Linked DNA regions of Homo sapiens. The protein of the gene in region 2 purifies or fractionates together with the protein of the main gene of each other region. This does not show direct contact. Each region holds a gene or a part of one and is shown on either strand. Other genes may lie near its edges.

The links.
Region 1: the proteins of RAP2C (region 2) and FUNDC2 purify together in Homo sapiens (co-immunoprecipitation; one large-scale study listed by IntAct). This does not show direct contact.

Annotation. Positions count from the first base shown.
Region 1 is NC_000023.11:155,033,180-155,037,008, reverse strand, and holds part of FUNDC2 (FUN14 domain-containing protein 2), read right to left. Parts: intron 3,607-3,829; coding exon 3,456-3,606; intron 1-3,455. UniProt on the Homo sapiens protein: Binds directly and specifically 1,2-Diacyl-sn-glycero-3-phospho-(1'-myo-inositol-3',4',5'-bisphosphate) (PIP3) leading to the recruitment of PIP3 to mitochondria and may play a role in the regulation of the platelet activation via AKT/GSK3B/cGMP signaling pathways.
Region 2 is NC_000023.11:132,212,784-132,216,612, forward strand, and holds part of RAP2C (ras-related protein Rap-2c isoform 1 precursor), read right to left. Parts: intron 1,793-3,829; exon of another isoform or gene 1,752-1,792; intron 1,664-1,751; coding exon 1,385-1,663; 3' UTR 1,351-1,384; intron 1,173-1,350; exon of another isoform or gene 1,120-1,172; intron 1-1,119. UniProt on the Homo sapiens protein: Small GTP-binding protein which cycles between a GDP-bound inactive and a GTP-bound active form. May play a role in cytoskeletal rearrangements and regulate cell spreading through activation of the effector TNIK.

The DNA.
Region 1 (3,829 bases), about 23 Mb from region 2:
GTCTGGCAGAAACTGGCAGCAACCTAATTCTAAAATTCATATGGAGGAGTGTATAAAAACAAGATAAAATTCAGATGGAAATGCTAAATACCTAGAATACTCAAAATAGCTTTGATGAAAAACAAAATTTCAAGACTTGCATTACCTAAGTTACAGTAATCAAAACAGCATGATAATGGCACCTAGATCAATTTGGCAGTACAAAGAGCTCAAAAACATATAGTCAACTGATTTTCAACATAGGTGTAAAGACAATTCAGTGGAGAAAAAGACAGTCTTTTTTTTACAAATGTGGGGACAACTAGATACCCATACGCAAAAAAAACTTGGATTCCTACCTTATACTATATACAAAAAGTAAATCAAAATGGATCACAGAACTAAATATAAAATCCGAACCTATATACAATCTAGAAAAAGCGAGAGAAAATCTTGGTGACCCTGGATTAGGCAAATATTCTCAGACATGACACCAAAAGCTGGAGCTACAAAAGAGCTGCACTTCAAGATTAAGAACTTCTGCTCTTTGAAAGGTACAGTTCAGATAATGAAAAGCTACAGAGAAGTAATATATTTGCAAATCACATATCTAAGACTTCTATCCAGAATATTTAAAGAACTCTCACGATTCAGCAGTGAAAGAAAACCAACAACCCAATAAAAATATGTGGAAAAAGATTTGAACAAATAAGTCATCAAAGATATATGAATGGCAAAAAATAAGCCCGTGAAAATGCTCAACATCATTAGTCATTAGAGAAACGCAAATTCAAACCACAATGAGATACAACTTCATACCCACTAAGATGTTCGTAATCAAAAAGATAATACCAAGTGTTAGTAAGGATGCAGAGGAACTGGAACCCTCACACATTGCTGGTGGAGATGTAAGATGGTACAGGCACTTTAAAAACTGGCAGGTACTTGTAAATTTAGAACATTCACTTACTACGTGACTCAGCCATACTATTCCTAGATATTTACCCAAAAGAAATGAAAGCATATGTTCATACAAAGACTTGTACACTTGTATACAAACTTGAAGTTTTATCTGTAACAGCTAAAAAGTGAAAAAAAAACTCAAATGTCCATCAAAGGTGGATGGAGAAACAGATTGTGGTACATCCATACAATGGAGTACTACTTAGCAATAAAAAGGAATGAACTGTTGATAAACAGAAAAGCACAGATTATCTCAAAATTATTATGGTGAAGGCTGATGCAGGAGAACTGCTTGAACCCAGGAGGCGGTGAGCCAAGATCGTGCCACTGCACTCCAGTCTGGGCAACAGAGCAAGACTCCGTCTCAAAACAAAAAAATATATTATTATGGTGAATAAGAGAAGCCAGACAAAAAAGAATATATACTATGTAATTCCACTTCTAAAAAGAATCTAGAAAACATAATCTATAGTAATAGAAAGCAGATCAGTGGCGGGAGGATGGCATGAAGGAAAGAGCGTGGAATTACAAAGAGGTACAAAGCAGCTTTTGAAGTGATAGGTATGTTCATTATCTTGACTGTGGTGATGGTTTTATGGGCATGTACATATGTAAAAATGTATCAAATTTTATACTTTAAATATGTGCAACTTATAATATACCTATTTATTAAATTTAAAAACTAAGAGATAAAGAAAATAGCCAAGATGTTCCTAAAGAACAAGATAGCAGACACACACATATGCATGCGCACACACACTCACATAAAGCAGCGGGGAAAGGGATAGCTTTCACAATAAATTAAGTTGGGACAAATGGGTATTCCACATGGGGAAGAAAAGAAGGAATCTACCACATACTGAGCACAATAACAATTCCAGGTGGATAATAAATCTAAATGTGAAAGGTCAAATAATAAAAGTTCTGAAACATGGGGTAGGCAAAGATTACTTAAATAAGCCACAAAAATCACTAACCATTAAGGTTAAGATTGATAAAATTGACTATATTAAAAATAAGATCTTCAGTTCATCAAAAGATACCATAAAACGAAAAGATAACCACAGAATGAGTGAAAATATCTATAATACACACAACTAACAAAGGACTGAGAATATTCAGAATATATAAAGAACTCTTACAGCTTAACAAGGGAAAGAATGACAACTTCAGAGGAAAAAAACTAGAGTGGAACTGAAAGAGGAGATCCAAATGGTCAACAAACATACGTAAAAGTCGATCAATGTCACTCCTACTCAGGGAAATGTAAATGAAGCCACCATGAAATACTACTACCTAACTACCAGACTGGTAAAATTTTTATAGTCTGGATTTAACTTGATTACCTCGCTAAGGAAAAATTAACTAATTTTTTAAAAATTTAATAGCCTGGCAAAATCAAGTGCCACCATGTAGAACAACAGGTTCATTTGGTCCTTGCTGGGACTGTAAACTGTTAAAAACAGTTTTGGAAGGTGGTTTGACATTATTTAGTGAAGCTGAAGATACCTATACCCATTACCTAGCAATTTCTAGGTACAGACCCTACAGAAATGTATGCACATATACACTGGGAAATCTAATACTCATATAAGCATAGTATTAGCCAAAAATGGAAACAACTCCAATATCAGTCATCAACTGGATATACTGTGGTATATTCACATAATGGAACTCAAAATACAAGTGAAAGTGAAGAAACTACAACTATACACAATGTAGTTGAATATATGAAACATCAGGTTGAGCGAAAAAAGCAAGACTCAAAAGAATACATACTGATTGCATTTACTTTAAGGTGGAAAGCAGGTAAACCACAGTATGTTATTTAGTGACATAACTGGTGTTAAAACTACAAAGAAAAGCAATGAAATAACTGCTTAATAACCTCTCGAGTTTCTAGGGCGCTAGCCACGTTTTTTTTAACCTTAGCAGTTGTTACATAGGTGTTCACTCCAAGTATTTGCTAAAATGTACACCTGTTAAATGTGCTGTTCTATATTTGCTATATGGTGCTATAAAATTTTTCAAATGTAAAGAGTCTATGAGATTAATGGATTCAATATTCACCTATGAAATTTGCTATTACTTTTTGAATTTATTACAAATGAAACCATAAGCTGTGTCACATTAAGTTATCATCTGACATAGCTAATAAGTAGTTAGCTCCTTATTCTACCAGTTACCAGCTATGTGGCCTTGGGCAAACTAACCTTTCTGAGCCTCAGTTTCTATAAAATGAGGATAGAAAATAACAGTACTAATTCCAGAGTTGTGAGAAGGAAATGAGATATCTATGTAAATACTTCAAACAGAACCTGGCATATAGGAAACAATCATTATGTGTAACCATTAAATGGTACTTTAAGATGATGTTTAGATACATGCTCCACATTAAGTGACCAATTTCACAGAAGCCAATGTGTTTTCACTGGTTAAAGGAGATGATGGTACCTATAACTGCAATACTAAATCATGCACAAAAGACAGTGGACATCTTTCACATCACTTACCATCCAGTGACACCTCCAATGAACAGCTGGGTTGCCACGCTATACTTTTCTGCTGAAGGTCCAGATTCCTGCCCGAACAGCTTACGCCACCATGGCTGCTTCTTAGCAAATTCCGCAAGGTCCAGTGACTCAAAATTTCCCTCAAAGTTTCCTACAAGAAGTAATACGTTAAATAAGAAAATATTTACTTTTATACCTAACTAGATTGAGATATTTAAAGAAACAGACATAAATGTAATAAGAAACCTCCAAATATTCTATTTTAAATAGTAAATTTATTCTAAGTTGCAATTTTGGAAAATCAGACTAAAATCAGCAAATACTAATGTCTATATTACAGGGAAAAACCTAGAAAATCTCAAATTAGTCCTCTA
Region 2 (3,829 bases):
AGACTATACTGCAAGTACAATGCTATCAACCAAACACAAGCTGGACTATGGTCTGAAAAGTGACTTTATAAAATAATAGATGTAGCTAGACATAAGAAAATAAATGAGTTTTCATCATATTCTGGTATGCTAAAGGCTGATGAGTGAAAGCATTTTAAATAAAGCATTGTTGTCATCCTTCATTTTCAAAGATGACACTATCTGACAGGAGACCTTGTCTGAAAAGATAAATTAGGGACCGTTAGTCTTTTCTCCGGGGAGCATACACAAAGCCAGACCCTTGATTAGGAATCATTGCTCCAATCTGAAATGCCTGTTGCCATTTGCAACACTGCCTCCTAGACTCGAGGTCAGCCTTGGCTCAGGAAGATCAATTTCATTCCTGATACTGTCAGGCTAGTCTGGCATTTGCTGCGGTTTCTCAGTCATTCACAATATTGGTTGTTTTATCTTATTATCTAAGTGTTACTGTCTAAGTGAGACTATTTGCTCAATTACAATCTAGACTAAAAGATCATGGCATAAATAATCTTGTTTTAAATGCTTCGTAAGTTTTACATAATCTTACTTTTAAAAAAGTATGAGTTTTAAAAAAAAACTCATTCATTAAAAAAAACTTGTAAGTTATCATTTAACTCAGTGAAAGGCCTGAAGGTTTGTTACTGTTCCTATTAATCTCATAATTTATTAAATTGAATAAATTTTTTTATGCATGAAACTGTTCCTTCTAACACATCACAGATAATTCAACTAGATTATCTTTTGGACCGTATATTTATAATGAAGTCAGGGTACACTGTGGCACTATAATTTGTTATTATCAGAGGTCACTTAAGTCCCTCAAGTGTTAGGTACAGATGAATTTGCTTAAATAATTGTACTGTTAATCAAGCACTTGGTGATTAGTAAATTGGTGATTTTAATTGCAGCAATTTGCTTGCTCAGGACATAAAAACATAAAAGTACAGAAAATACCACAAAACTTCTGAAATTATTACTCAGTGCTCTCCTGTGCATTCTGGATGCTAAATCAGAAGAACAGGGAAAAAGTGTATTATGGTTTAACTCAACCCAAAGAAATATTACCAATAAAGCAGAGAAGGAAGAACAATAACTCACTTAAAATCCTGGTGATGGGAATATAAGCAATTTCTTATCTCCGCTTTGCTTATCTGCATTTAAAAAAATTTTCTTCATTGAATGTTGACTATTTTGTGTGATGGAAAATGTTATTTTAAAAATAAAGAAATTTAAGGCAGTGCCATATGTATTAACACTAACCAGCTTTTTGTTTTACTTGATCAAAAAACAAAACACTACCTGATTCATACAGTTCCATCAAAAACTAACCTGCTCGGTATGGCCATGATTGAGGTTATCTTCTTTACTGGACGACACAAGTTGTACAACACTGATCTTGCTTCTCCGGCAGGGATGAATAGTTCATTTGCCTGACGATCTCAGCAAAAAGTTCATCCACCATTGATTTACTTTTTGCCGATGTCTCCATGAAAGGACAGCCCCATTCTTGAGCCAGAGCTCTGCCTTCTGAAGACATAACCTCTCTTTCTGGTTCCAGATCCACTTTATTTCCTACTAGGATTAGTGGGACTTTTTCATATCTCTTCACTCTGACAATTTGATCTCTCATTGGCTTGATATCCTATTCAAGCAATCACAAAGAGAAAGAAAAACATTATGCTGTTTGTATAACCATAACAGAAATATTACAGTATTACAAAAAGTCATACCTCAGTGAGTATACAAAGCTGAATCCAAAATGAAATCACACCTAAACAGAGAAATCGTCATCATTTTGTCCACTGAAGTAAGAACTAGATAATTTCCAGAGACCCTACCTGCTGGGTTTGTCAAGAATATAAAACATGGGTTGCACACTAACCTTGACTCATATAATCACTTTTACCCACCCCCAGTCTATACTGATTAAAAAAGCAAGTTTCCAAATGATTAATCCATTCGTACATAAGGATGTTTGGCCATCTCCCTAAACCTGCCTGCTTGTCATCACTCCTTGTAACACCTGTTATCCTAGCACAGGATTGCAGCATCTATGCATTCCTAGCCATGTAGCAAGAGGGCTTGAGTGAAAGTGTTTTAAGTGGGAAAAAAAACCACTTTGTAATGCCTAGAATAAAAGAGTTACAACCAGATGGATACACTTAAATGTTTTATTTTAAATTGAATGGTATGCATTTATTCCAGTAAAATCAAACACCTTACAATACACTTAAATTCACTAGAAACTACTGTAACAGTGAGCAACTCCTGGGAAGGACAGTGCAAGGGGAGTCTGGGTGGGAAGAAGTCATTTTTTTTTTTTTTGCCTGTGTTTGTTTTTACTACTTGTTTCCCCATGCGTATTACTTTTTCCAAGTAGTTACAACGAATTACAAAAGATAAGAGCGTTAGCAATTCTCCAGTAGCATCAGTTTTGGGAGGTGGGGGCAAGTATTGATTTAATACAATATTATAGACTTAATTATAAAAATCACCATTTTCGGTAATATTTCATAATTTTAAAAGTTTGCCTTAAATAGAAAATGTATGCTTAATTGGAAGTCATAGTAAGTACAGAATATTCACATGTGGGCCTACGGAAAAGCAAGGGACTATGAAAATCTATAAAAATATAGTTATTTGATATTTGCATCAATTTGGTTTGATAATATATCAACTCAGATTTCTAGGTTACGCTTATTTCCCATTGTCTTTATGGAAACATAAGTTCAGCTGAAAATCCAAACTTAGGGCATTTGGGCTCAAAAGAGTTTACACCTCCACTGAAATAACGGCACAGTTTTTCACTCCCAATTCATGTCTATAACACAAATGGATATAACAGAAATCTTATGAAACACCCTTCAAAAGACTCTCAGCCTCCAGAGAGTAAGCTGATAGAATAACAAATCTCCTGAGGATCCTTTAGGGAAAAAATGCCTGTCAAACAGCACCTTCAGTACTTTGGTACTTTCTGGGGGAAAATGCTTTTATGATACTATTGTTTGGGAATTTATGCCTACATAAAATGAATTTAGTTTGGTCTCAATAGCTTTGATTTATTTCCCCAGAATTTATCATCTTAAAAAAAAAAAATCCCTGAAGTTGTTCTATCAGGTTACTGGGAAAGTTCACTATAGTACTTTAATTTAAAATACTAAAGAAAGTGGAATTAGCACATTGTATTGGCTAAAGCACTTAAGGTCTCTTAAGTAAGCTACATTAAGTGCATACCTTTAAATGCAGAAAAAATATATCCATTTCCTAAATCAATGGAGGTCAATATAATGGGTCAATATGAGGTTATTCATTTTCAAGGGATAAATAGAAACATACATTGCATATCCTAAAATAACGTTAAACCTTCAGTCTGTTTCCCAGTGAAGGACAGGACAGATTTTCTAAGAGATTGGACCACATCCAGTTTGGCCACCCAGCCGGAGTAAGAAATCTGCACTTGTTCAGTGTTCCCAGACCCACGTATTTTCTGTAAATACAGGCAATGTTACCAGAAACAATTTGGATCAACTGCAGAAAAAGAGTCATTCCTGATTTTTGTTGGTTATTAATTCTAGGTACTAGTCTTTTCTATTAGTAACTTTTCTTCCTACTACACGCCCCAAGTAATTAAGTAAAATGCCTAGAAGGCAGGTCTTGAGTTCTTCGTCTTGCAACACTAAGATTTATGAATCTAGTTGAGAAACTTGAGAGAGAAGGGGAGGGCGGCGGGAGGGGGTGTTGGGGGGTGGGAGGGGAAGGTGTGGGTGGGACAGACACAGAGGACTTATCTGTGCAACAGATAATCGGC